Linked DNA regions of Homo sapiens. The protein of the gene in region 1 interacts with the protein of each later gene in a pairwise test. Each region holds a gene or a part of one and is shown on either strand. Other genes may lie near its edges. The genes, in order: TMPRSS2, PLLP, ADIPOQ and BNIP3.

Evidence for each region.
Region 2: the proteins of TMPRSS2 (region 1) and PLLP interact in binary tests that used the Homo sapiens proteins (3 or more experiments, as listed by UniProt).
Region 3: the proteins of TMPRSS2 (region 1) and ADIPOQ interact in binary tests that used the Homo sapiens proteins (3 or more experiments, as listed by UniProt).
Region 4: the proteins of TMPRSS2 (region 1) and BNIP3 interact in binary tests that used the Homo sapiens proteins (3 or more experiments, as listed by UniProt).

Annotation. Positions count from the first base shown.
Region 1 is NC_000021.9:41,505,148-41,512,135, forward strand, and holds the start of TMPRSS2 (transmembrane protease serine 2), read right to left. Parts: upstream 3,012-6,988; 5' UTR 2,934-3,011; intron 2,919-2,933; exon of another isoform or gene 2,858-2,918; coding exon of another isoform or gene 2,803-2,857; intron 1-2,802. UniProt on the Homo sapiens protein: Plasma membrane-anchored serine protease that cleaves at arginine residues. Participates in proteolytic cascades of relevance for the normal physiologic function of the prostate.
Region 2 is NC_000016.10:57,274,673-57,281,672, reverse strand, and holds part of PLLP (plasmolipin), read left to right. Parts: intron 1-7,000. UniProt on the Homo sapiens protein: Main component of the myelin sheath that plays an important role in myelin membrane biogenesis and myelination. Plays an essential function in apical endocytosis. Regulates epithelial development through the regulation of apical endocytosis.
Region 3 is NC_000003.12:186,838,741-186,845,712, forward strand, and holds the start of ADIPOQ (adiponectin precursor), read left to right. Parts: upstream 1-3,969; 5' UTR 3,970-4,009; intron 4,010-6,816; exon of another isoform or gene 6,817-6,867; intron 6,868-6,972. UniProt on the Homo sapiens protein: Important adipokine involved in the control of fat metabolism and insulin sensitivity, with direct anti-diabetic, anti-atherogenic and anti-inflammatory activities.
Region 4 is NC_000010.11:131,978,898-131,986,159, reverse strand, and holds the start of BNIP3 (BCL2/adenovirus E1B 19 kDa protein-interacting protein 3), read left to right. Parts: upstream 1-4,236; 5' UTR 4,237-4,353; coding exon 4,354-4,399; intron 4,400-7,262. UniProt on the Homo sapiens protein: Apoptosis-inducing protein that can overcome BCL2 suppression. May play a role in repartitioning calcium between the two major intracellular calcium stores in association with BCL2.

The DNA.
Region 1 (6,988 bases):
CCATTCACCTTTCCTTTCTACCTCAATGTCCAAGGCTTAGATCTGATCAGTGCTCCCCAAACCCAGAATTTTCAAGAGGGCTTAGAAAAATAAATAAATAAATAAGATGCCTGGGCCCCATTCTCAGAGTCTGATGTAATAATTGGGACCAAGGCAATGATCCCATATTATTACGAAGATCCCCTAGGGAATCTTGCCGCAGATTCAGGTGGAAAAGGGTAAGAGTTATCAGCCAGACTTTTGGTTTACATTTCCTGGTAGGGGGACAACACACTCGGATGATGATGATCGTGGTGGTGGTGGTTACTGGCATAAGGTACTGCACGCATCTACCTTTTCACCTACAGGACATTTGCACCAGCGTCTTGTCACTCAATGCCCCCATGGCCTAGGAGGTCAGCCCTCCGCAGGCCCCCTTTCAGAGTTCCAGGCACTCTGGCCATGTCATACTGCTAGAGGGAGCAGCACGGAGCCCAGGTAGGGCTGTGGGCAGGGGCTGGGCTCTTTCAGGTCGGGGAGAACCAGAGCCTGGCCCAGGAACAAGCCCTTTTCAATCAGGATTCCGGGCGCCTTGTTTCCAGCTTCCTTCCCTCCTTTCCTCCACTTGCTGGTAACATTCCAACATCCTGGAGGGAGAACCCAGGGAAGGATCAAAAGGAATCCGTACTGTGCCGATTGTCACTAAAGCCCCTTCTAAGCATCCTGTGTCTCCAACTCAGAGCCCGACACTGGAAGCACTGACCTATGGAGCCAGACAGGCCATGTTTATCCCCAGTTCTGCCCCTTACAGGTTACAAGATCTTGGACAAGCTTCCCAACCTCTCTTCCCCAGTTTCCTTACAATTGAGTTAAGTACATTATAAAGGGTTTGCAATGATGCCTGGCTGAAAAAAGTGCCACATCAATGTCTGTGGTTATTATTATAATGCCAGTGCAGCCAAATATACTCCTACAATTAAGGTGACTTGAGTTCAAGATAGAGTGGCCAACGGTGCCAGGCAGGCCAGCACCTAGCAACCTGGGAGGCCCTGCCTGAGGCTCCAGCAACAGCACAAGCTTGTTGTTAGAAGGTTGTCCTTGGCTGGTGGGAATAAGGGAAGCTGCTGGGGACCAAACAAATGTCCAAGCAGAGAACAAAAGCCCAGCCAGCTCACCAGCTGATAATTAAAAATAACCAGAGGCCGAGGTGTAGATGGCCATCTCCAGGCAGAGGTCTCAGCCCGTAGGTTGCACCCCGAACTCTCCAGCCTAGTGTGTCCTTACCCGAGGGTGTTGCTAGGTTTCATTCTAACCTCACCTGTCCAGTAGTTCTGTAGCGGAGCAGGGCAGGTCCTACTTCTTCAAAAGCACTCAGTAAAGGTGGGGAAGTCCTGAGCAACCTCCAGTGACTTTCTGGGGGAGCTCCCGGTTACCTAGCCCACCAGGTCCTCCCTTCACAGCAGCAGCTCAGGAGCCAGGACTGACTTAGCTACTTGCGTCCCCAAGGCCCTTTGCGCTGGTAAACTCTCCCTGCCACACTCCCAACCCCCATCCTTCCTTCAGGGGAGGCTGGCTGCATCCCCACTTCCTGGAGTACCTTCCCAGATCTCCTGGGACAGGTCAACAAACTTAGTCTCACTTTAGGTTTTCCAAATGCCTTGTAACTGGGCTGCGTAGCCTTTGTAATTTTCCATGATTCGGGAGGTTCTCGCGGCTGGGAGCTCCGTGAGGTCAGGCATTGCCTTGGGCGCGATGCGCTCATCTTTCCCGCGGGACCACTGCACAGGTTCGCACGGAGGGAAGGGCTGCGCAGCCTCGAAGGCGAGCCCTGGGTGCTCCCTGCCCACAGGGCTCACCTCGGGCCGCCGTGCTATCCTTTCCTTCCCAAACAAGCCACCAGGATTCCTCGTGATTAGGGCTGCCACCAGGGCGTTCTGAACAGGATTCAGGGCCACCGCGCTGTGCTCTACGGCGGAGCGGGCGAAGGCCCTCCTCTGCCACAAGCGCTCAGGGCTCTCGGCGCACAAACTTTCTGGACATGGGGCAGTTTTTCAGCTGGACCCGTGCTCGAGCAGAGCGCCCACTGCCAGACTGGAGCACTTGACCACTCAGGGTGCCACTGTGCCGAGCCGGGCAGGACAGGATGAGGTGGACCGAAGCGCCCAGGTGCCCCGCCTTCCCCCCAACCCGGCACGGAGCGCAAGCGGAGGAGCCAGACCGGCTCCTCCCGGGCGGGTTCCTGCCGGTGCCGGGTGTCCAGGAGGCCCCGGCCCTGATCGCCGCCAGCGGGTCGCCGCAACGGGGCCTGAGTCGCGAGCAGTCCCTCCCCGAGACTGACTGGCCGTTCGCACCTCGCCCGGGGGCCCTCCAGCAGCCTGGCCCAGCGGTCCCCGCCGCGCCGGCCGTATCGTTCCCGGCATCTCAGCGAGTTTCCAGTTTCTCCCTACCTCAGTAGGGAACCAAGAAGCAGAAGGAGTTCAGGTAACACTGCGGGACTGCAGAGATTTCCCCCAAACAAAGAAGCCAACCGACAGCACTCCCAGTCCTCCTCCCCAAAGAGAAAAGGCGCACCGGTGCTCCCAGGCGGGGGCCGTGGAGGGCAGGCGGACTAGGAGCCAGCTTTGGGGACCCCGGGGGACTCTCTTCCACCAACTGGCTAGGGACTCGCAGGACCACCTGCCCCAACCTCGCGATGCCAAGCCAACAGGGGCGGCGAGGGCTCTCGGCCGTGCGCAAGGGGTCCCAGGCGCCCAGCACTCTCCCAGCACCCCGGGAGGCGCCCTGCCCGGCTGGCCCCAGCGCTCGACCCTCGGGCGCACTCACCTGCCGCGCCGCGCTCCTCACACCCGCTTTCACCTCCGGGCGGGGCAGGGGGCATCGGCGGGTCCCAGGCGCCCAGGTTCCCCTCCCCAGCCCGGACCCCGAGCCGGGACCCTGGTACCGGCGCCGCTCACCTGCCGCGCTCCAGGCGGCGCTCCCCGCCCCTCGCCCTCCGCCTCCGCCTCCGCCTCCTGCTTAGCTCGCGCCTACTCGGCCCGGCCCGCCCTGGCTCTCGCTTTAATCTCAGGAGGCGGTGTCCCAGGGTCCAGGGCGACACCCCCAAGCGGGTCGCGGGTCACCCTGGGCGGGCGGGGGCGGGGGCGGCGGGAGGAGGCGTTTCCCAAGGGAAGTCCGGGACGGGTTCCCTGCCTGGCTCAACCCCGGCTGCGGAGGGACCCATAAGGGACTCTGGGGCGCTTCCCGGGCCCGGCCACAGCGGCCAACCTGCCCCTCTCCGGTCCGCGGCGCAGCGCTGCCCGAGGGCTCGAGTTTGGGTTAAGGAAGGGGATTCTGGGGAGCGCTCCTGGAGTCCTGGGTGAGCCCCCGGAGCTGCTACCTCACGAGCTCCTGTAGGCGGCCGGCCCCGTCTTGGCCTCCGGGGAACCCACTGTAGCCTCTGGGCAAGGACCCAGGGTAGGCCTTGGGGACTGCTGGCCCAAGCACGAGTGGCGGGGACACAGCGCCGGACGCCCAAGACCCTCCCCAGTCCGCCTAGGCTGGCATTTCTTGGCCCCCACCAGCGTCCGGTGGAAAGTGCTCCCCCGGATGGTCCCAGGTCTCTCGGCACCACCGGCCAGGGCGGGAGTGAGGAAGTGGTGGGACACACCTCAGCCAGGAAGACGTGGCTGTTCCCGGGCACTTGAGAGGTTCTTTCTAATGTTTGCAATTGTGGGGGCTCAGAATTCACCAGAATTTAATAGGACCGTAGACCAGAATTCATCACCCCAAGTAGGACTGGAGGAGACCAGAATCTGCTACCCCAACATAGTCCTCTTTGGCACATTGATGATTTGGAACTGGTTATGTTGAGGAACTGCAGACACCAGAGTACCTCTGAGAAAATGCCCTTTTGTAAAGGAAATTTGCACCTATAAAGGAAATGTTTGTTAGTCAGCAGATCTGTACCAGGAAGAGAGCTGTTCCCGGACAACTTTTATCACCTGGGAAACTTTTATCTGCCTCACACGGCAACCTGCGTTCACCAGACACCTCCTCTCCTCACGCTCCCCTCACTCCTCCACCGCTCCCCAGAAGCCTCAAACCCCCATTTCTTTCTGTCACTCAGAGTGACAGATAAGCCTCAATCATCGGGCTGCTGCACCTTTTTTTTTTCGTGTGTTTTTTTTTCCCCCAGAAGGGGTCTCACTCTGTTGCCCAGGTTGGAGTGCAGTGGCTCAATCATGGCTCATGGCAGCTTCAACCTCCCAGGGCACAAGTAATCCTCCCACCTCAGCCTCCCGAGTAGCTGGGACTAGAGGCGTGTGCCACCACGCCCAGCTAATTTAATTTTTTGTAGAGATGGGGGTCTCCCTATGTTGCCCAGACTGGTCTCCAATCTGGGCTCAAGCGATCCACCTGCCTTGGCCTCCCAAAGTGCTGGGATTACAGGTGTGAGCCCTCGCACTGGACCCCTCACTCACCTGGCCTGTTCTTTAAGTCTCATATTCTTGTGGGATTCCCATCTGTGAGTACATACATTAAAACAGCTTTTCTCCTGTTCATCTATTTGATGCCAATTTAATTTGTAGACTAGCTGAACGAACTAGAAGGGTAGAGGGGAAGCATGTTTTCTCCTCCCCTGCATAATATACAAATCAACATGATTTGCTTTAAAATGAGGTGGAAGCAGAAAAAAGCCCCATTCAGTCCCATCCCAGGCTGCCTTGGCTCACTGCTCCCTTCCTGGGAAGCTCTCCCGGAAGCCTCCTGTGGGGCAGGACTTTCCTAGTAAACCCTTCCCTCTCACTCCCTCCTTTGGCACCTTTTGTGGTCTGCTGGTGGCACCCACAACAGGGATTGTCCCCAATATGCCCCAGCCCTCCCCATCCCCCACACTGCCCTGCGCTCTGCCCCAGTGGGAAACCCTCAAAGACCCTCTCCAGCACATAGGGCAGGTGCAGTTGTCTTTCAGCGGCAACTCACTTATTTCTGTCTTGACAGTGTGTTTGGTGCCTACTAATTCCACCCAGAAACCAGGGAGTAAGTGCTGCCGCAGACTCAGGCCTCTTGGAGTGGTTGTTCATTCACCATTTATTTTTCCTTTTATATTAATAATCAGGGTTCTCCAGAGAAACAGAAACAATAGGAGAAATACAAATATATACACACATATACATATGCACACACATGTATATACACACATCTATATTTCTATATATTATTTATAAATATTATAAATATCTTATATATTATAAATACATATAAATATATACATAAACATGTATTTTATATGCATAATATAATACAGATATGATATATATTATACACAGCTTATATGTAATAAATATTATTTATAATATATATAAAGATTTACTATAAGAAATTGACTCATACAATTATGGAGGGTGAGAAGCTCTACAATCTGCCATCTACAGACTGGAGACCCAGGAAAGCTGGTGTTGTAGCTTTCAAAGTCCTGAGAGCCAGAGAACTAGAGAGCAGATGGAACAGATTCCAGTCCAGGTCTGAAGGCCTGAGAACCAGGAGTGCTGAGGGCAGGAGAGGATCAAAGTCCAGCTCACACAGTCAGGCAGAGAGCAAATTCAACCTTCCTCCCCTTTTCTGTTCTATTCAGGCTCTCAACCGATTGCCCAAATTGAAGGCAATCAGCATTACACAGTCTTTTCAAACATTAATCTCTTCCAAAAACACCCTCACACGCAGACACCCAGAAATAATGTTTAACCAGTTACCTGGGCATCCCATGACCAAGTCAGCTTGACACATAAAATTAACCATGGCTGGATGCAGTGGCTCCCACCTGTAATCCCACCATTTAGAAGGCTGAAGTGGGAGGATCTCTTGAGCCCAGGAGTTTGAGACTAGCCTGGACACCATAGCAAGATCCTGCCTCTACAAAAAGTTTATTAAAAATTAGCCAAGTGTGGTGGTGCGCACCCGTAGCCCAAGGTACTTGGGAGGCTAAAGTGAGAGGATCAGTTGAGCCCAGGAGTTTGAGGCTGCAGTGAGCTTTGATTGTGCCACTGTACTCCAGCTTGTATGACAGAATGTGACCTTAGTTTTATCTAAGCATGAATATATATGCCACCATAAGTTGACCCCTTGTCGACTTCACACCTACACATCTCCTTACACCATACTTTATCTCTAAAGACAATAGCAAAGTAATAATTTTGCCTAATGTGATAAAACTCTTCTGCATACAACCAAAAAATGCACTAAGCCCTTCCCCAGAAGTGGATGTAAAATTCTCCAGTGTTTACACTTCTCCTTGGTATTCCATAACTTAAATACCATAATGTAAAATTAACAATACTTAATACAATGATATAAAGTCAATATGCCTTAAGTTATGTAATAAAGGAATATGAGAGAAAAGACAACAGAGATATATACTGTATATACAAATATGTGCACAAATGTATTTAGAAAAAAATAATGAGAAAATACTCGTGACAATCTAATGCTTTATAACAGGTTGCATGGGCAATAGCTGGTGTTTGTAACTGTCTTCTTCCACTACCCACTCTGCGTTCCCTCTGCCTTCGGGAAGCATGACAGCTGGTCATGGTTCTTAACCTGATGGAGTGATACAAACCTTCATTCCTCAAGGGTCTGGGCCATTAATAGCCCTGCCTGGATTGTGTTGTAGTTTTCCATTGACCTTAATCACAAGCATGGTAAAACTAAAAGATGCCCTAAGGAATCGTTGTATTCCAGACACACTCTTCCTTACCTTCCTGGTGGAGTAGAAGTAGTCTATAGCTTCTCCTTGGTAGTCCAGATGGGTCTCCCCAGCCAATGCATAACTCTCTCTTTGCCTTTTGATTCAGAGGCATGTGGAGCTCAGCGTGGCCAGGTGGCAGTCGTAAATTCTAGTTTAATTGAATCATTGTTGTGTCTCCTGGTGGCAGCATTCCTCCCTCCGGAACTAAGACCTCTAGGTCAGCAGAGCGTAAAGTCACAGAAACAGCAAGCGAAAATTTTGCTAGTGGGCCACTTGGAGTAA
Region 2 (7,000 bases), on another chromosome or scaffold:
CTGGCATGGTGGTGGGTGCCTGCAGTCCCAGCTACTCGGGAGGCTGAGGCGGGAGAATGGCGTGAACCCGGGAGGTGGAGCTTGCAGTGAGCCGAGATGGCGCCACGGCACTCCAGCCTGGGAGACAGAAAGAGACTCCGTCTCAAAAAAAAAAAGAAATAAAAAAAAAATCTGCTTGTTGGAGAAGCTGCATCCTGAGCTGTTTCTCTGGCAACAGGTAGTTCCACTGGGTCTGAAATGGGATATGTGGGGGTTAATCCAACAGGCACCACCATCTGCTGGGAAGCCATGGTAGCTCCCATCTATCAGGCCAGCACTAGGCTCAGGCCCTTTGCCAAGGCCTTTAGATCTTCTTAGTCGGCCCCATTTTAGGTGAGAAAACTGAGGCTCAGAGGCCAGTTCTTTGCCCAAGATCTCACAGCCCTCCTCCACAGGAGTGATTTTTCTGACTTTTCTGGCCTATGGTCTTAATGACCACGTGTGGCTTTGCTGCTACCTTCCCAGGATCTGTCATTATGGAGGGAGTGGTGGGGACCCTGGGCCCACAGCCTGCTTTCCAGGAGCTCTTGGTCAGTGAGAGAGGTGCCCAGAGGATGTGCTTCTCCCAGAGGGATCAGAGAAGGCTGCATGGAGCAGGAAATAAATGAGAAAATGGAAGCTAATTCTCCATCAAACCCTTCTGTTTCCCAGGATTTGATGAATGTTCCTGGTATGGTGGGAGGAAGGGGAGGTGGGTAGAAAGGCTCCCAGCTCCTGGAGAAGGAGATACACTTTTCATTCGGTATCAGAATGTGTCCTGAAGAACCAATCTCAGTATTCTTCACAGATGTCTGGTGGTGTTCATTGATTTATCACTATCGTTATTCCTTGTAGATTCAGAAAGAACACCAGATGGAATATGATATTAAACCACATAAGACAGAAGAGTTAAAGCGATGTATCTTTAAAAGCTGGTGGTGTGGAGGGGAGAATTGACTTGCAGCAAGTTTAAGGCTGTTGATTATTTGTTGAACTTCCTAGCAGCCTAGGCAAAAAGGGAAACATGAAGAATCTATGCAGATAGCGTCTAAAAAAGGAGGCAGGTCTTTGTTTTGTTTTGTTTTGTTTTCTCTTGCCAATGGATTCATGTCACAAGGCAGGCAAGTTTGATCTACAGATAACTCTTTTGGTTTTAAAAAAAAAAGGCATCAGTGCTACAGATTTTTGTGTAGCTCAGGTGGAAGAATGCAGAAGGCGTGGTTATTTGCTTATGGGGAGCTCCCAAAGCCTTTTTACAATAAGTATAAAGTAGTGCTGTTAGGTGCCCATCTCTCATTTTTTCAAGCCTCCCCAAGCCGTGGGGAGAAGGATGATCTTATCTGGATTTACTGATAAGTAAATAGGCTCCGAGAGGGTGAGGAACTTGTCCAAGGTCACACAGGATAGAGTGGCAAGCTTGGCTTTGCACTTCGATCTGGAAATCCAAAACCTGGCTCTAGCTATGCTTCCTCATCTTGTTTACTTTGGGGGTGGGAAGTTCTAGAGTGCTTTCTAGGGGGAAAAGGGGGACTGCAGGAAGGGAGACTCATCAGGGGCCAAGGCCATCAGGGAGGGCTTCCTGGCATAGGAAGGGAGAAGGAGGATCAGGACAGACCAGAGCTTGTACAGAGACCTGTCAGTCAGTAGGCGTCCTTGAGGCCCAGGATGTGGAAGCTGTGTGAATGCCCTGTGGCGGTAAGGCCATTTGGTTTGGTACCTTCTGTCCTTCCATTTTGCCCCACCTCCTGGGATTGGGGGTGGCCACACAATTCCCACTTTGCAGGTGAATAACAGATCAAAAGCCTCACCTAGCTAGGCAGGTGGCAGGGTGGCACATGCCTGTAGTTCCAGCTACTTGGGAGGCTGAGGTAGGAAGATTGCTTGAGCCTTGGAGTTTAAGGCTGCAGTAAGCCATGATCACGTCACTGCACTCTAGCCTGGGTGACAGAGTAAGACCCCTACTTTTTTTTTTTTTTCCTCGAGACAAGGTCTTGCTCTGTCACCCAGGCTGGACTATAGTAGTGTGATCACAGCTCACTGCAACCTCAACCTCCCAGGCTCAGACGATCCTCCCACTTCAGGCCTCCTGAGTATCTGGGACGACAGGTACATGCCACAATGCCTGGCTAAGTTTTTATATTTTTTGTAAAGATGGGATTTCATCATGTTACCCAGACTGGTCTCGAACTCCTGGGCTCCAGCAATCCACCTGCCTTGGCCTCCCAAAGTGCTGAGATTACAGGTGTGAGCCACTGTACCCAGTCCTCTACTCTTAACAAAAAAAAAAAAAAAGGAAGAAGAAGAAGAGAAGCCTTCCCTAGATCTCCATGATCCATGGGGTGGCATGGAGAGTGCTGATGGGAACACAGGCCTGGACGCTGAGAGCCTTGGGTTCAAATCCTGGCTCTGTCCCTTTCTGGCTGCATGATCCTGGGGGAGTTCCCAAATTTCCCTGAGCCTCACTTCCTTGTCTGTCAGATGGTGATGGCAGGATCTAGATCATGCCTGCAAAGAGCTAGCCTAGCACTATATGTGGGAATGAAGGACAGTTTGGATTCACAGGGTTATAGGATCCGAGGGTTCTTATGCAAGCATAAGAGGTGCCTTTGCAGCATCTCCAACATGAACTTGCATGCTTCCAGAGACAGGGAGCTCAGTTCTTCTTAAGGCTGCCTGCTCCATCCTTGGGCACTTGGGAGTGTTGGAAAGTTCTTCCTTATGGTGATACCGGCTCTGTCTCCGGCCCCAGGAGGCAGACCAGCTCCTCTGCAGATGAAGGGCAGGGCAGGGACTGAAAGCCAACTCTGGTCTCCAGGAAGGGGCTACCTAGATGAGATTGTTGGAGTCCGAGTGAGGTGTGAGCAGGGCTTGGTCACACTCGGATTGCAATGTCTGAGACTCCCGGGGCTTCCCTTAGCACTGAGATTTGTGGGTGGTTCAGTCTTTTTAGTACAGCATTCCAGGCCCCGCATGCCCAATATCTTCATCCAACCCAGCTCCACTGCACAGAGCAATAAATGCCTTGTATTGTTAGTTCCCCCCACACTCCCCACTTACTGCAAGGGGGGGAGTATTGAGTGTTTGGGAATTAATGTGTAATTACATTATGAATATATGAATACATTCTCCTCACAAAATAAAAAAACCTGTACAGATTACACTAAAGCTGTAGTTGGATTACCCACCTCTGTCCCTAAGGGGACAACTATTTGGGGTGTTTCTAGTCTTTTTTCCTGTGCACTTTTGAAAACATTGATAGTTTTATTCTGTATCCTTTGTTCAGCAAGTTGCTTTTCTCATACTTGGTGCATCTGAGAGCTCTTCTTGTGCTCTGTCATCCAGGCTGGAGTGCAGCGGCGTAATCTCAGCTCACTGCAACCTCCGCCTCCCGGGTTCACGCCATTCTCCTGCCTCAGCCTCCCGAATAGCTGGGACTACAGGTGCCTGCCACTACACCCAACTCATTATTGTATTTTTAGTAGAGACGGGGCTTCACCATGTTGGCCAGGCTGGTCTTGAACTCTTGACCTCAGGTGATCTGCCTGTCTCTGCCTCCCAAAGTGCTGGGATTACAGGCATGAGCCACCGTGCCTGGCCACTCTTCATGTTTTGAGACTTGTCTTCCTTCCTTGTAAACTGTTGTGGAGTAACCCGTAGTGTCCCGGCAGCCTCTGCTCATTTAGCTGTTTCTCTACTGATGGAATTGTTTTATTCTTTGAAAAAAAAATTACAGAGACATAATACAAAGCACTCAAATAGTAGAAAGGGTAATCAAGAAAATGTAATCTCTCTCATCCCTGACTGACCACGCCCCACAGCTGCCCTCACCCCAGGCAACCACATGCCTTGTGTCTCATTCCAGGGTGAGTGGATGCATATTTCTACATAAAACCCACATCCTCACTTAACCACAGATAGGTGCTGTCTGGGCATGTGCCAAGCCATGCTTTTCCCCAGGGCAATACACCTAGGGATATTCTGTATCAGTGCACAGCAAGCTGTGTCCATCTTTTTCATACCTTTATTACCTAATTTCTTTTTCTTTATTTTTATTTTGTTTGTTTGAGGCAGAGTCTTGCTCTGTCACCCAGGCTGGAGTGCAGTGACGTGACCTCAGCTCACTGCAACCTCTGCCTCCCAAGTTCAAGTGATTCTCCTGCCTCAGCCTCTTAAGTAGCTGGGATTACAGGCACGCACCACCATGGCCTGACTAATTTTTGTATTTTTAGTGGAGACAGGGTTTCACCATGTTGATCAGGCTGGTCTCAAACTCCTGACCTCAGGTGATCCGCCCGCCTCGGCCTCCCAGAGTGCTGGGATTACAGGCGTGAGCCACCGCACCCGGCCCCTAATTTCTTTAATAGGTAATGTATTTACAATGCTCAAGAATAAAATAGACAGGGAAGGAGTACAGTGAAAAATCTCTGTTCCCTTTTGGTTAAAGTTGACTCCTTCATGCCCACTCTCAGTTTTCTATATCCCATTTTAAGACTTTCTTTAAGGAGACCTATGCAAATGTGGCTCTAGATTCCTCTCTCTCCCAGTTTATATAGTCTCCCCAAGATATATAGTCTAGCCACATCCTTCTGCACTTTTTCTTTTACACTTAAAAAATGAATCTTGGGGGTCCTTTTGTCTCAGTGTGTGGAGTGCAATTGCTTCTTTCTTTATGGCTTCTATAGTATTCCACCATGCAGCTGTGGTGTGACTGTGTGGTCAGTCCCTTTGTTGACAGACACTTCGGGTTTTCTATTCCTTTGCTGTTGCGCACCCTGCTGCAAGAAATGCCACCAAGTGCATCTGTACGATATGTTTCCAGGAGTGGGACTACTGGGTGGGAGGATACATGCATTTGGGATTGTGATGTAGATTGCCAAATGCCTTCCGGAGAGGTCACACCCTTCCTGCCTGCAACAGCATGCCTCCTGGAAGGTTCCTGTTCCCACAGCCTCCCAACATGGTGATTTAACACACTTCTGGATGTGCCCCAATCGAATAGACCAAAATGATAGGTCAATGTAGTGTTATTTTCATTTCTCTCTCTCTCTTTTTTTTTTTTTTTTGAGACAGAGTCTCACTCTGTCACCCAGCCTGGAGTGTAGTGGCATGATCTTGACTCACTGCAACCTCTGCCTCCTGGGTTCAAGCAATTCTCTGGCCTTAGACTCCCGAGTAGCTGGGATTACAGGCGCCCACCACCAAGCCCGGCTAATTTTTGTATTTTTAGTAGAGACGGGGTTTGGCCATGTTGGCCAAGCTGGTCTTGAACTCCTGACCTCAGGTGATCTGCCTGCTTCAGCCTTCCAAAGTGCTGGGATTATAGGCATGAGCCATGATGCCCAGCTAATTTTTATATTTTTAGTAGAGACAGGGTTTCACCATGTCGGCCAGACTGGCCTCGAACTCCTGACCTCAGATGATCTGCCTGCCTCAGCCTTCCAAAGTGCTGGGATTACAGGCATGAGCCACCAAACCTAGCCTATTTTCAGTCTCTTATCAGTGAGGTTGACCTTTTAAAAAATGTGTTTGGGTTGTTTGTTGGTTTTTGAGACAGGATCTCACTCTGTCACCCAGGCTGGAGTGGAGTGGCACGATCAGGAATCACTGCAACCTCCGCCTCCAGGGCTCAAGCCATCCTACCACCTCAGCCTGCCGAGTAGCTGGGACTACAGGTGCTCCTCACCATGCCCAGCTAATTTTTGGTAGAGACATGGTCTCACTATATTGCCCAGGCTGGTCTCGAACTCCTGGGCTCAAGCAGTACTCCTGCCTCGGCCTCCCAAAGTGCTGAAATTATAAATGCAAGGCGCGGCGCCAGGATCTAAAAGATGTTTAAGAGCCGTTTGTATTTCCTTGTCTGTTTGTATTCTTTGCTCATTCTACTGAGTGTGGTTGGTCTTTGCCTTAATAACTGCTAGGAGTTCTGGATTATTTGCAAATATTTCTTTCCTAATTTGTTTGTTTTGCTGGGTTTTTTTCCCCCTCTCATGGTGTTTTTTTTTTTTTTTTTTTTGCCTTGCAAAATTTTGTTGTAGTGTTTTTTTTTTTTTTGCTGAATTTCTTTATTTCATTCCTCTTCCTTTTTTCTTTCTGGGTTCTGGAAATTGAATCATAGTTCAGTCTTTTTCACTCCAGTTGTATCTGTCTGGAATGTATTAACATTGTTACATATTTGTTGTATTTAATTACCTTGTTAGCTTCTATTGTGACAGATAATACAGGTTTCCCACTTCCTAGTGATTTAAGTTTCCTTTTTAAAATTAGCTTATATATGTGATATATACAAGTTCATCAATGGGGACTAGTTTAGATAAATTATGATACATCTGTACAATGGTGCATGATGCAGTGAGTAAAAAGATATCCCCCCACCCCTCAAAGAAGACAATGCAACAGCTCTGTGTATAAGGATGGACAATCTCCAGGCTACCTATTTAAGTGAAAAAAGCAAGGTGCAAAATTGTAGCATGCTATCATTTGTGTGGAAGAAGTACACAGATACAAGACACACTTATCTGAAATGCATGTGTGTGTGTGTGTGTGTGTGTGTGTGTGTGTGTGAAGTCCCTGGAGACACACATAAGAAACCACTCTTGGCCGGGCGTGGTGGCTCACGCCTGAAACCCAGCACTTTGGGAGGCCGAGGCGGGCGGATCACGAGGTCAGGAGATTGAGACCATCCTGGCTAACACGGTGAAACCCCGTCTCTACTAAAAATACAAAAAATTAGCCGGGCATGGTGGCGGGCGCCTGTAGTCCCAGCTACTCGGGAGGCTGAGGCAGGAGAATGGTGTGAACCCGGGAGGCGGAGCTTGCAGTGAGACAAGATCGCATCACTGCACTCCAGCCTGGGTGACAGAGCAAGACTCCATCTCAAAAAAATAAACAATAAACTACTCTTGATCCAGGCACAGTGGCTCACACCTGTAATCCCAGCATTTTGGGAGGCCGAGGCAGGCAGATCGCCTGAGGTCAGGAGCTC
Region 3 (6,972 bases), on another chromosome or scaffold:
CTGGAGCTTGATGCCTGAAATGACACATCCTACATTCCTTTGCCAGATGGGTACCAGTTAGCTTGTGCACATGGGAGACAACCGTGAAAAGACTGAAGTGGGGAAGAAGGGAGGAGCTGTTGTGTTTCAGTGAGCGCCCTTGGCAGTGGCGGTGACAGTGGCTCCTGTTCAGTGGCAATGGTGGAGCAGCTAGCAAGACATGCAGTAAGCGCAGGCTCATAGGCTATGGTCCAGGAGCAGTCACCGATTCCTGGTCTTTAGGCAATATCATCTCCCTTTGCTTCTCCAGCCTTTCTAAAATTATTGTACCTTGACTAGTACAATTTTTTAGTATTGGGGGTAGTCCAAGGACACAGGCTTTAAAAAGTATGAATTCAGGGTTGCCTACCTGCATTGACTGCGCTTGAATCATGATGGCCTTCTGGTCGGTGGCAGGAGGTGACAGTCCAAATCATGCAGTAGCAAACCAGATACTTAAATTATCATCTGAGATACTTCAGAAGTACAGCCGTAGCCATACCTTCAGAAGAGATAAAGAAATGTTCTCCTGGCCAGGCGCGGTGGCTCACGCCTGTCATTCCAGCACTTTGGGAGGCCGAGGGGGTGGATCACCTGAGGTCGGGAGTTCGAGACCAGCCTGACCAACATGGGGAAACCCTGTCTCTACTAAAAATACAAAATTAGCGGGGCGTGGTGGCACATGCCCATAATCCCAGCTACTCGGGAGGCTAAGGCAGGATAATCGCTTGAACCTGAGAGGCAGAGGTTGCGGTGAACTGAGATCATGCCATAGTACTCCAGCCTGGGCAACAAGAGTGAAACTCCATCTCAAAAAAAAAAAAAAAGAAAAAAAGATAAAGAAATGTTCTCCTTTCTTGCCATTTCTAGGGGTTTGGGGATGGCGTACATTGCTGCAGGGCGTGCTCACTCTACCATCTTGCTCCAATCTTTATTTTTCAAAATACAGTGCTTATGCTTGGTTACTTCAGTTAAGATTATTTTTAAAAATCATAATTAAGCAAAAATATATGGCCATGCTTAAACATATTTAAGATAAATTAAGTGATTTGGCCTGTTTCAGTATCCCAACTCACATGCTAACAGGGGCTTGACCTGTAGCTACGGTACCCTGGAGGAAATGATCGCATTTATTTGGTTATTTCGGTCTAAGTAGTAATAGTTCTGTCCTGGGAAAAAGACTAGCCTCAAGGCATTTCTGATTGAATGTTTTTCAATTACAGTCTTTAAACCAGTATGCCACAGAACTGGCTCTTTCCACATGACGGCCTTTGTGGTGGGTGGCAGATTGCCCTGAGGCCTCGCAAAATGCTAGGCTTTCACAATGTCACTGACTGACAGCCAGGCCCAGCACAGTCTTGGTGTGATTGTGGGGCTAAAGTTATTCCACCTTGTGCAATAGCTACAGCTTTCTCTAACCAGCTGCATTCTTATAAAGTTAGAAGAAAATACTTTTTTTTTTTTGAGATGGATTCTCGCTCTGTTGCCCAGGCTGGAGTGCAATGGTGCGATCTCGGCTCGCTGCAACCTCCGCCTCCTGGGTTCAAACGATTCTCCTCCCTCAGACCCCCGAGTAGCTGGGATTGCAGGTGCCTGCCACCACGCCCGGCTAACTTTTTTGTATTTTTAGTGGAGACGGGGTTTCACCATCTTCGTCAGGCTGGTCTCAGACTCCTGACCTCAAGTGATCTGCCCGCCTCAGCCTCCCAAAATGCTGGGATTACAGGCATGAGCTACTGTGCCCGGCCAAAGAAAATACTTTTTATGCCAGCCCTGAAACTACCCTGAAGCACATACATCAACCTTGAGGCCTCACACTCCATCAAGAGGGGTGAAGGGCATGAGGAATTAGAAAGCATAGGGATTTTTAGTTAGACAGATCTGGTTCAAATCCTAGACTTGTGCCTTGAACAAATTATTTACCCTCATTGAACTCTAGATTCATTATTTGTAAAATGAAAGACAATAATAGTTATCTCCAAAGGAAAGTTGAATATGATCATTCATTTATTCATTAATTCAACATTTATTATTGCCTACTTTGTGCCAGGTTCTATTCTAGGAACTAAGGGATACAACTTTGAATAGGCAAAATCTCTGCTCTCCTGAAGTTTACTTTTTTTTTTTTTTTTGAGACAGAGTTTCACTCTTGTCACCCAGGCTAGAGCGCAATGGTGCTCTTGGCTCACTGCAACCTCCACCTCCTGGGTTCAAGTGATTCTCTTGTCTCAGCCTCCCAAGTAGCTGGGACTACAGGTATGTGCCACCACGCCCGGCTATTTCTGCATTTTTAGTAGAGATGGGGTTTCACCATGTTGGCCAGACTGGTCTCAAACTCCTGATCTCAGGTGATATGCCTGTCTTGGCCTTCCAAAGTACTGGGATTACAGGCCTGAGCCACTGCACCTGACCTGAAGTTTATGTTCTATTAAATAGCAACAGACAGTAACATAAACCAAAAATAAATAGGAAAACACCATAACAAAAATCAAACAGTGATATAATTGAGAGTTGCTTCTATTTCTTTTTGTTGTCTTCTTGGTTCAATCAGCCTGCTAAACTATATGGAACCTCATTTTCATGGGCCACTTATTTAAGCCGGGGGACCTTGGAAAGTCTCTCATGTCTCTCATCTCAACGGCCTAATGTGACTTCTCTTGAAATATTTGGACATTAGCAGGAAGCTGAGGCTTTACATCAGATCTTTACTTTAATGGTGGACTTGACTTTACTGGTAGATTTTTAGGCTCTGTGTGGACTGTGGAGATGATATCTGGGGGGCAGGCAGACACTTGCCCTGCCTCTGTCTGAGAAAATTCTGTTTTGGATGTCTTGTTGAAGTTGGTGCTGGCATCCTAAGCCCTTGCTGGGGTCGTAATTTAATTCATCAGAATGTGTGGCTTGCAAGAACCGGCTCAGATCCTGCCCTTCAAAAACAAAACATGAGCGTGCCAAGAAAGTCCAAGGTGTTGAATGTTGCCACTTCAAGCCTAAACTTTCTAGGAACACCTAAGTGGGTGGCAGCTTCCAGTTCTCCAGGCTGCTTCTAGGCCAGAGCTGGGTTCCACAAGAGACAGAATAGGCATATATATGCTTAAGGAACTGGAAAAACAGGCTCTCTCTCTCTCACAAACACACACACACACATACCAAGGTAGCTGTCAAAATGTTATCCGAAATTTTGGAACCAAAAAATCTTGAAAGATGGTATTCCAATATCACATTTTATGTAAGTTTTCTATTATATTAGATTCAAATTACGATTCGAGGCCACAAGCTTTAAGAATTCAGGGCCTTTTTAACTTGCCAAGCCCCACACCACTCCAGGAACTTCCCCACACCCCAGTTCTCAGAATTCATGTGCAAGGTCTTTCCTAAATCCAGGGTCCAGGTCAGAGAGTGGAGGATGTGCTCTATTTCTTACCTGATTGCAGACCCCTCTGACAGTGCTCCCTTCTGAAGCACTCACTGTCTGAACGTACACAGTCTCAGACTTAATCATGCACAGTGAGCAAGACTGTGGTGTGATAATTGGCGTCCCTGACTTATTAGGGCAAATCTATGGGAGGGGGAGACCTCCTGGACCACTGAGCAATTAATTCATTTACATTAGGAAGTTTCTCCGTCAGATGCAGGAAAAAAATCTTGTTTTCCTGCTGTGGTTTTGACTTTTGCCCCATCTTCTGTTGCTGTTGTAGGAGGCAAAATAAGGGTCAAGGCCTGGAAACACAAGTGCTTTGACTGAAGCTCCACTTGGCTTCCGAAGCCCAAGCTGGGTTGTACCAGGTTCCCTAGGGTGCAGGCTGTGGGCAACTGCCAGGGACATGTGCCTGCCCACCGGCCTCTGGCCCTCACTGAGTTGGCCAATGGGAAATGACAATTGTGAGGTGGGGACTGCCTGCCCCCGTGAGTACCAGGCTGTTGAGGCTGGGCCATCTCCTCCTCACTTCCATTCTGACTGCAGTCTGTGGTTCTGATTCCATACCAGAGGGTAAGAGCAATTCTGTGAAGTTCCAGGCTGGGTGGGGGATGCATGCATAGCCTCTGGCTGGGATCACCCAGGCTCTCCCGTCCGTAGTAGTGTGGGAGTGGATACAGGTGGATACTCTGGTCAGAGCAGCACTGGTGGAGGCAGATATGCACTGGGCTTCTTCCTCCGTTCTCCCACAGCCCCAAGAGAGAAAGGGTTATTTCAGACATTCCTTCTAAGATGCATGGAACCATTCTGAATTTTGCCCAGTTCGCTCTGTAGCAGGATACCTATTGAGAAAAAGTTAGGGTCAGTAAGGTGGAAGGGTCTGTCCACAGATGAAGTCCAATTCGATTAAGGGGGATAAGGGAATACATTGCCTCTTAGCTTGACCAGGTAGGGCAAAGGAAGAAGCATATATGAAGGCAGCTTCAGAAAAGTCAAGCTGAGCACTGACTTCAGACTGGAATTAGGAATCCAGCTCTGCCACTTTATTCTACTCAGCAAATATTTACTGAGCAAATTCTATGGGCTAGACAGTGGATTGGGTTCACAAGATACAATGAGTGTGACATGGTTGTTGTCTATGGATTTGGGGATATATGTAGGTATAGGGATATCTTACAAGGTAATCAAGAGGTTCTAATGAGGCCAGCCATGGTGGCTCACACCTGTAATCCCAGCAATTTGGGAGACCGAGGCGGGTGGATCACCTGAGGTCAGGAGTTCCAGACTAGCCTGACCAACATGGTGAAACCCCGCCTCTACCAAAAATACAAAAATTAGTTGGGCGTGATGGCAGGTGCCTGTAATCCCAGCTTCTCGGGAGGCTGAGGCAGGAGAATTGTCTGAACCTGGGAGGCAGAGGTTGCAGTGAGCCGAGATTGTTGCCACTGCATTCCAGCCTGGGTGACAGAGCGAGACTTTGTGTCAAAAAAAAAAAAAAAAGAAAGAAAAGAAAAAGAGGCTCTAATGAGATAAAATGAGAAAAGCCTGGCATATAGTGGCAACTTATGAAAAATTGTAATTAAAAAAAAACATTTTCTGACAGAAGAAACTGGATCTACCTGGTTTTTCTGAAGCCTAATCCTGCTCGCCCCAGTGAGTGCTGTTTCTGAGGCATCCTGGTTGTTTTGAGCTGTGGATGCTGAAGGTTAGAGTGGGAGGGATTTTAGAGGTTAGGTCTGCCCCTCTTGTGTTAGAGGACATGGATCCCTGGTCTGGAGAGGTTCTGGTTTTTGGATCAAGCCTCACAAGGGGTGGCACCAACTCACTCCTAGGAACTCCGCTAGAAGGAAGGCCAGCTCTGCCTAATTCGGTTGGGGAGATGGGGGTCCCTTTATGCTAGCAGAATATGTCCGAAGGAGCATGATGGTGTCAGCTTTGTTCATGAAGGCCAGTGGTACACAGGGAGCCCGGCAGCTTCCTCAGCAGTCCCTGCTGCCACTCTTCCTTAAGTCTTGAGGAGTCTTTTTTTGGCACAATCTCAGCTCACTGCAACCTCCGCCTCCCAGGTTCAAGCGATTCTCCTGCCTCAGTCTCCCAAGTAGCTGAGACTACAGGCATGCGCCACCACGCCCAGCTAATTTTTATATTTTTAGTAGAGATGGGGTTCACCATATTGGCCAGGATGGTCTCGATCTCTTGACCTCATATTCCACCTGCCTCGGCCTCCCAAAGTGCTGGTATTACAGGTGTGAGCCACTGCGCCTGGCCGAGGAGTCTTAAGCTGAGATCACAGCATTGCACTCCAGCCTGGGCAAAAAAAGCAAAACTCCATCTCAAAAAAAAAAAAAAAAAAATAGACACAAGACTGGCTCCTTGTCTTTTTTGGGGACAGGGTCTCACTCTATCACCCAGGCTGGAGTGCAGTGGTGCAATCACAGCTCACTGCAGCCTCGATTTCCCAGGCTCAAGTGACCCTCCCATCTTAGCCTCCTGAGTAGCTGGGACTACAGGTGTGTGCAACCATGCCTGGCTAATTTTTAAAAATTTTTTGTAGAGATGAGGTCTCACTATATTGGCTGGGGGGCCTCAAACTCCTGGGCTCAGCAGTCCTCCCACCTCAGCCTCCCAAAAGGCTGGGATTATATGCTTGCTCTTTTTAAGGTGGCTGTAGGGACAAACTTTCCACCTACTCCTTGTCAAGCCAGTGGACCGGTGGTCCCAGACATACGGCTAAAGTCAAGAGGTGATGTCTTTTGGAGAGATACTTTCAATCAGGAATTTCAATCAGAAATTCAATCATGTGGAGAGAGACTTATCCTAAAAATGTGGTGGTGCGTGGGATGCTCTGTTTTATTAGTTCCTTGACAGTATGTATGTGTGTGAGTGTGTGTGTGCGCGCGCGCACACTCATTTGGATGGGTGTGTATGTGTGGGGGGGGGTGGTGCGTACGTATGTGGATGTGTGGATGTGGTGTGTGGGTGTGCGCGTGCATAGGTGGAGGTGTGTGTATGGGTGCGGGTATGTGTGTGTGTTGGGCATGGAGATATTGACAGCTCTCCCAGGGCTGAGTGAAGGCTTTCGGGCAAAGCTCCTGGGAGCTAGGCAAAGCTGAGTTGATTCCTGGTTATGCCATTTATTATTGGGTTGCACCGTGTGAAACTGCCAATATTCTACACTTTGACTTTTATTTATTTTTATTTTTATTTTTTTTGAGACAGAGTTTCACACTTGTCACCTAGGCTGGAGTGCAGTGGCGCGATCTCAGCTCACTGCAACCTCTGCCTCATGGATTCAAGTGATTCTCCTGCCTCAGCCTCCCAAGTAGCTGGAATTACAGGTGCCCGCTACCACGCCTGACTAATTTTTGTATTTTTGGTAGAGACGGGATTTCACCATGTTGTCCAGGCTGGTCTGAAACTCCTGACATCAGGTAATCCACCCACCTCAGCCTCCCAAAGTGCTGGGATTACAGGCATGAGCCACTGCGCCCGGCCCATTTTGACTTTTAAAAATGGGAGTTTGATATAATTCAATC
Region 4 (7,262 bases), on another chromosome or scaffold:
TCCTGGACCACTGAGGGCCTCTCCCACTCCATTCCTGCCTGTAGAAGCTGAGTTCTCACCAACTGCCTGCTCCCTGCTGTCCTGCCACACATGACAGCTTCATTGTCCACTGTTGCTGCCGGAAAATAACCGTTTTCCTTAAATATCTGCATCAGAGACAGCAGAGGCGATGACAATGGGTGAGTGAATCCAAAATTTAAGGACAGAGAGGTTTATTTCACTGAAACAAAGATTCCCTAAAACGAAGCAGGTGGATTATTCAGTGCTTGCTGGAGAGCATTGAAGAGAGGCTCCAAGGCCGGGCACAGTGGCTCATGCCTGCAATCCCAACACTTTGGGAGGTTGATGTGGGTGGATCACTTGAGGTCAGGAGTTAAGAGACCAGCCTGGCCAACAAGGCAAAACCCTGTGTCTACTAAAAATACAAAAATTAGCCAGGTGTGGTGGTGGGCACCTGTAATCCCAGCTACTTGGGAGGCTGAGGCTGTAGTGAGCCGAGATCACACCACCGCACTCCAGCCTGGGTGACAGAGTGAGACTCCGTCTCTAAAAAAAAAAAAAAAAGGCTGCAGGTGGGAGATGGCCTTGGGTGCGGGGAAAACAAGTACATAATTCCCAGAGGACAGTGAGATTCACCCAACAAGCCAAAGTGTGAGAGCTGATGGGTAGGGCTTTGGTGCTCCACCTTCCCGGTCAATTCCAAAGCCCCCCTTTTTTGAATAAGGACTTTAGCCAAGGCTCTTCCTGATGCCTTGCCCCAGTTCTTTCCTAAAAATGTAGATTGGAGGAGAACTCAACAATGTACTCAAAGGTCAGACAAATCTCTGCTTAGATGTTTTGAAGGGTTTGTAAAAACCTTTAAATAATATTCTGGAATGCCTGTTAGCCTCCAAGATCATTAGAATGACTCCTCATAAATTCTACTTTCCTCAGTGGCTTAAGTGAGGGTTTGGTTACCTAAGTTAAAAAGATACCAGCTTAACCGGGTGAATATACAAACCCACAAATTAGTAAGCTATGCAGATCAACTTCCTAAGACAATTCAGAAGGAAGAAAAAAACTAAGGTCTCAAAGATTATGAATTTGCAACTACAAGAACTGACTAACCAAATGAGGCCTTTTAAGAAAAGACAGGGCCTCCTTCTAATGACAAAAGGGCTGTTTGCTTCTACTGTAAAAAGCCTGGCCATTTCAAAAAAGATTGTAGAAAATTTAACAGCAGGACCAGTGAAAAACCAGGATCCCACATGATGAACAGGATTGCTCTGATGATCGAAGGGAGGTGTTCCTATTTCTACTAATGCCTTAGGAGAAATGGACATTGCCATAAATGAAGAACAGACACATGCCCTCAAAGACACTGGTGCCACTCTTTTCGTCCACTTTAAGTTGTCTCCTTCCTTGGAGTAATGGAACTGTACAAACGGTAGGGTTATCTCATCAGCCTATCACTGGATACAAGTCCAAGCCCTTAGAATCCCAGGGCCCTCATTCTTTTCTTCATTCCCCCACCTCTCAGACATCTCTTAGGCAGACATTTTGTGTTGGAACGTCACAATGCATGCTTTCCTTCTCCCAAAAGGAAGAAATGGATTTAGGTTTAGAATGGAAGGAGCAAATGGAAAAACTACAGAATGAGAAATTACTGAAATTATAAAAATACAGATCAAACAACTTTTTTTTCAACTGGCACTAATGACACGGATGGCTTAGGGCAAGCTTTGTCAGACCACTTATGGTCAGAGTCTTCCACCGACATTAGTAAAATATATTCAGCCACTTTCATTAAAGTGGAAGTAAACCTGATTAATCCTTTACCCAATATCAGACAATATCCTCTAAGGCCTGAAGCAAATGAAGGAATAAGATCCGTAACAAAAGACTATATTAAAAGGGGTCTAATTATTCCTTGCGCCAGCATGTAATACTCCAATCCTTCTTGTAAGGAAGCCGAATGGGAAGAGCTGGTATTCTGTACAAGATTTGAGAACCGTCATCAACACTGTGATCCCCAGACATCTGGTAGTACCAAAGCCCCATCCTCTTTCGGCAGCTGGAAGTGAGACACTGTGACTCATTTATGTAGTGCCTTCTTTAGTATTCCAGTGGACCTAGAGTCAGTATTTGTTTGCTTTTACTTGGGATGACTGCGAGCATATCTGGCCTATCAGGAAATATTGCTGATGAAACTGCTGCCTCCATCACAGCCCAACAAAAAGCTACTGACTCACTGGCTAAGGCTGCACTGGACGACTGCATTGCTTTCGATTATTAGCTGAGCAAGCAAGTCTATGTATGGTGGCAAATACCTCTTGATGTGCATAAACCCTTTCCACGAAGTAGAAACTCATATGGGAAAAAGTACAAGCCACTAGGCTACACTATTCTGAACAATTCTCCATTTGATTTTCTTCGTAATACTTTTAGTTGACTCCCTCGAATAGGTTCCGTTTTTCATTCTGGCATACACATTCTCTTTTTCATTGTAATCCTTATGTGCACCGTACTTGGTAACATTTTTGTTTTAATAGAGATGGAGTCTTTCTGTGTTGCCAGGTTGGTCTTGAACTATCAGGCTCAAGTGACCCTCCTGCCTTGGGCTCCCCAAATGCTGGGATTACACACAAGAACCACTGCCTGGCCAGCACTACAGTTCTACTATCGAAATTATTAATGCTATGCTATGTATCTCTGGCGGTTTTTTTTTTTTTTTTTTTGAGACAGGGTCTCACACTGTTGCCCAGGCTGGAGGGTAGTGGCCTGATCATGGCTCACTGTAGCCCCTACCTCCTGGGCTCAAGGAATCCTCCCACAGCAGGTGCCACCATACCCAGCTAAGTTTTTTGTATTTTTTTAGGGGAGAGAAAGCGTTTCGCCATATTGCCCAGACTGGTCTCCAACTCCTGGGCTCCAGCGATCCTCCTGCCTCGGCCTCCCAAAGTGCTGAGATGAAAGACATGCGCCCCACACTGGCCTCTGGATGTTTGTTACTCCTGAGAAAACTAAAATCATGGCACTCCAAAGACTAGAGACGATTCAACAGGCAAGAGCAGGGATGAAATGCACGCAGCGACTGAGGTCTGGCTTCGCGGCTCTGTGACCCCGGTTCAGCTTCTGAGCGCCTGGTTCCTTGGCGGGACGCCTCCTCCTTTCCCGCAAGACCAGACACGACTGTCTGGGAAGCAGCGTTTCTGGGGCGCACCTTGACACTTGGATTTGGATCAACAATGCTTTCAAGAAGAAAGACTTTTGATCAAAAGCGGGAAATGAGAAAGCGACTTTCCTCTGAAAAGTGCCTCCCAGTCCCGAGGCTGCGAGGCCCCCACGCCAGGCTGGCTCCCACGGAAGCCGGGCACCCACCCGGCCCGACCAAGCGCCACTCCGCCCCGTGGACGGGGCGTCCCACCCCGGGGACGCCCGCCCCACACCGCGTTTGCACCCCGGAGGCCCCTTGCCGCAGAGGCGGACGGCGCGCCTCTCCCGGGCCCCTGGGGTCCGCGCCTCCCTCGGGCAGACTCTTTCGACTCTGCTCGAGCCTCCGCTTCTTCCTGCGGGCGGACGCCCCGGACACAACGGGCCCCGCTGTTCACGCAGGGGCGCCCCGGCGGGGCGGGCAAAGACCCGGGGACGCGGTCCCGTCCCGAGACGCTCAGCTCCGGCCCACCGCTCGCAGCTCCCGCCCCGGGCGCAGGTCCCGACCCCACGGGCCGTCTCGGAGCCGCAGCGGCCGCTTCCCTGCACGTCCTCACGCCCCCCGCACGGACGCCGCCAGCCCCGCGCCTCAGTTTCCCCACTAGCAGGATGGAAAGACGGGCCCCGCCCCGAAGCGTAGCGGCGTCTCCGTGGTAGCCAGTGCCCAGAGAGTCCGCCGGTCCCACCGCCCCTTCAAAGGAGAACCCGGCCCACCGCCCGCCGCGGCGGCGACCGCGCAGCCCACTCGTCACGCGGCCCGCGGCGTCCAGCCCGGGCCGGCTCACCTCAGGCGGTCGCTGCCGCCCTCGCGCCTGCGCGCCCCTCGCCCCGCCCCTCTCCCCGCCCGCGTCCCGCGCACCGCAGGCCTCTGCCCCTCGCCCACCGCAGGACCCGCCCCGCGCACGCGCCGCACGTGCCACACGCACCCCACGCCCCTGCGCACGCGCAGGCCCCAAGTCGCGGCCAATGGGCGACGCGGCCGCAGATCCGCCCGGCCCCGCCCTGCCCTGTGAGTTCCTCCGGCCGGGCTGCGGGGCTCCGCTCAGTCCGGGAGCGCAGCTGGGCCGCGGCGCTCCGACCTCCGCTTTCCCACCGCCCGCAGCTGAAGCACATCCCGCAGCCCGGCGCGGACTCCGATCGCCGCAGTTGCCCTCTGGCGCCATGTCGCAGAACGGAGCGCCCGGGATGCAGGAGGAGAGCCTGCAGGGTGAGGCGGAGGAGGCGGCGCGGGAGCCGAGGGGGCGCGGGGGGGAAGCCTGGGGAAGGCCAAGAGGGCGCCAAGGGGAGGTTGCCGGGGAGGCCTAGGGGGCATCGCGGGCCGGGCGAGGCTGCGCCATCCTCCCCTTCCGTACCCACCCCTCCTGCGGGCATGCGGAGCCCGGGGCGTGGGGACCCCGCGTACTGCCCGGGGTTCGCGGCCTCGCCACTCGGGCGGGGGTTGGCTTGGACCCGGGTCGGACCGCACGGGAAAGCCCCGATTCTCCAGCTCCGCGCGAGCTAGAATTCCACCTGGAGGTGAATCTGCGTCTCGCAGTTGGACCGAACAGCCTCAAAGTCCACGTTGCCCTCCGCGGTCTGTAGTTCAGACCAGTATTGGTTTTAATGACCAAACACCAAGGCGTGGCAAGTGGCCTGTTATGAGCTTTAATTTTGTTATTAATGTTTATATCCATGGTGACTGTTAGGATTTCCTCAAGGGTGAACGCGGAGATGGGAGGGGGTTACAGCGTTTTTAAAATATGGCATTAAATGGGCATGTTCCAATTTCACTAGAGGGTCGTTCCAAAACAAAGCTTTAAATGACTTACGGGTTAAGAAAACACAAGCAAAAGGACGCTGCCCGTGCAGCACTCAGTCGTTACAGCCTGCCTAATGCCCGAGTAGAGGCTCGCTGTGTGCCCTTGGCTAGATTCGCAAGACCATCCGTTCACGCAGCGGGAAACGCAGGCCCGGGGTGCAGGACTTGCCCCACGCACAGCCGGGTGGCGTGGAGACCCACCCCACCCGGTGGGTCCGCGTCAGAGTCCAGACGAGCCTTTGCTCAGGGAAGCGGGCACTGAAGCCGCCTTCCCAGGGTCCCTAGGGCCAAAGCCTCGGAGGAGGGACCTGGTGGCAGCTGACCTTTGTGTTCTTTGAAGCCAGAGTTTACTAAGCAAAATTAGCATGTAAATAAGCTTGGGAAAGGACTGCTGAAACCTCTGACAGTGAACTTTTAATCTTCATTGAGAGTTTTTAAAACCATATATTCACATAAATTTAGTGAGTTGCTAATTTTATTACAAAAAAAAAGATTTTACTAGGCAGGACTTAGTTACCGTAATATATTGAATAATATATATATATACATATGAACACTACAAGCTTTTTTTTTTTACCTTTTTTTTTTTTTAAGAGACGGGGTCTCACTGTGTTGCCCAGGCTGGTCTGAACTGGGCTCAAGCGATCCTCCCGCCTCGGCCTCCCAAAGTGCTGGGATTATAGGCCTGAGCCACCAGGCGCGCCTGGCCTAAAACCATATTCTTTAAAATCCTGTAATTCGGATTTTTCCTCTTGAAATTTAAACATTGGCTAATTACTATTTTGAAATAGATTAAGAGGTGTTTTCCTATCTTTTGTCATAAAATAAAGTCCAAGGGATGTTTTTATAAACTCTTTGCCATAAAATCACCCATTTTCCGGTTGTGAAGCCGCGTTACTCCTGACATTGTGCGTTTCACTGTCCGGCTGGGATCTGGGCGCTGGGAGGTGGAGGGGGCTCCGGGGGGCTCGGTCCTCTCTCCAATATGTAACTTACACAGGCTGCTGAGTCATTGGCAGTGCAAGGCGGCCAGCGCCGGAGTTACGAGATTTTTGTTTTTCTGTTTTGTTTATTCTATAAAAAGATAGTTACCCGCGGGGTGGATCCCATGTAGGCGATTCCTTGGGCCGCCCTGAGTGTCCGCGCGGCAGGACGGGGCCACTGTGGGCTCGGCGTGGGCGGGGTTGGCCGGTCCCGCGGGCTCCAGCTGCCTGCAAATCCGGGACGGAGCGGTGGCTCAGGCAGCGCTCACCTCTGCCTGTCCGATTTCACTGCCCCTTGTTGACCTCGGAACAGAGAACAATGGGAGCCTTGCAGCCAGACCCACGGATGGAAGCAGCAAGCACTCTCTCCTCTGAGTGTACCCTCTGGGGCCAACTGCTTTTCCTAAAGAGTTAATGGCAAAATGGGCTGATTCTGTTCCTTTCTATCTCTTGATCATTCTAGCTAAAGTTGTTGACTCGCAGGATGCTCGTATTTGTCCTTTTCCTTTTTTTTACAAGCCCAGTCTTACTCCCCCAGGCTGGAGTGCAGTAGCACAATCATTATAGCTCACTGTAGCCATGAACTTGGCCCTTTTCTCCTAGACATGTCACTGCTAACATGCAGGAGAGGTAGGATTCTGTGACGAGACCGTGTCACGGTGGCGGGGGCATCACTTCCTTGAAGGACCCACTGTCTTCACCAGGAGGGCATCAGTTCAGTAAAGTGCATGCCCATTTACTCTGGAGGGCCGTGTTTAATAATCCAAGCCCTCACCTCTTCACCCACTGCTGTGTCTGCAACTGGCAGATGGTTCTCTCTCTTGTCAGAGGCAACTCACCATGGGCAAAGTTGTATGAGGGGAAAAGATGTTTTCTACTTATTTTGGAGTGGAGTTGTAGCATTGTGTGCTTTGAGACCTGAAGGGGTTGCAGACATCGAGATTCTCGTCCAAGACTTGCATTTCATAGATGGTCACAATGAGGTTCTAGAGGTGGAGTGAAAGATAAGGCTGGCAACAACACTTAAGGAGAAGCCAAGGTCTCTGCATGAGGCAGCAGTGGGATACCTGGAGCCCAGATGCCTGAGGCTGCGTGCAATAGGCCCTGGAGGGTCCTGGAGGAGAGGAGGCCAGAGGTCCTGGAGGCAACAGGAAGGTGGAGGGAAACGAGCCCCGTTGGAAGCCAGGGACCTGATTTACCTACCCAGCTGACTTGATACTTGAAATCTTTTGTCAGGCGGGTCTCTTTTGTTCTCTCCCCACTAACCTGAGAAGCTTTAAAGGTAAAAC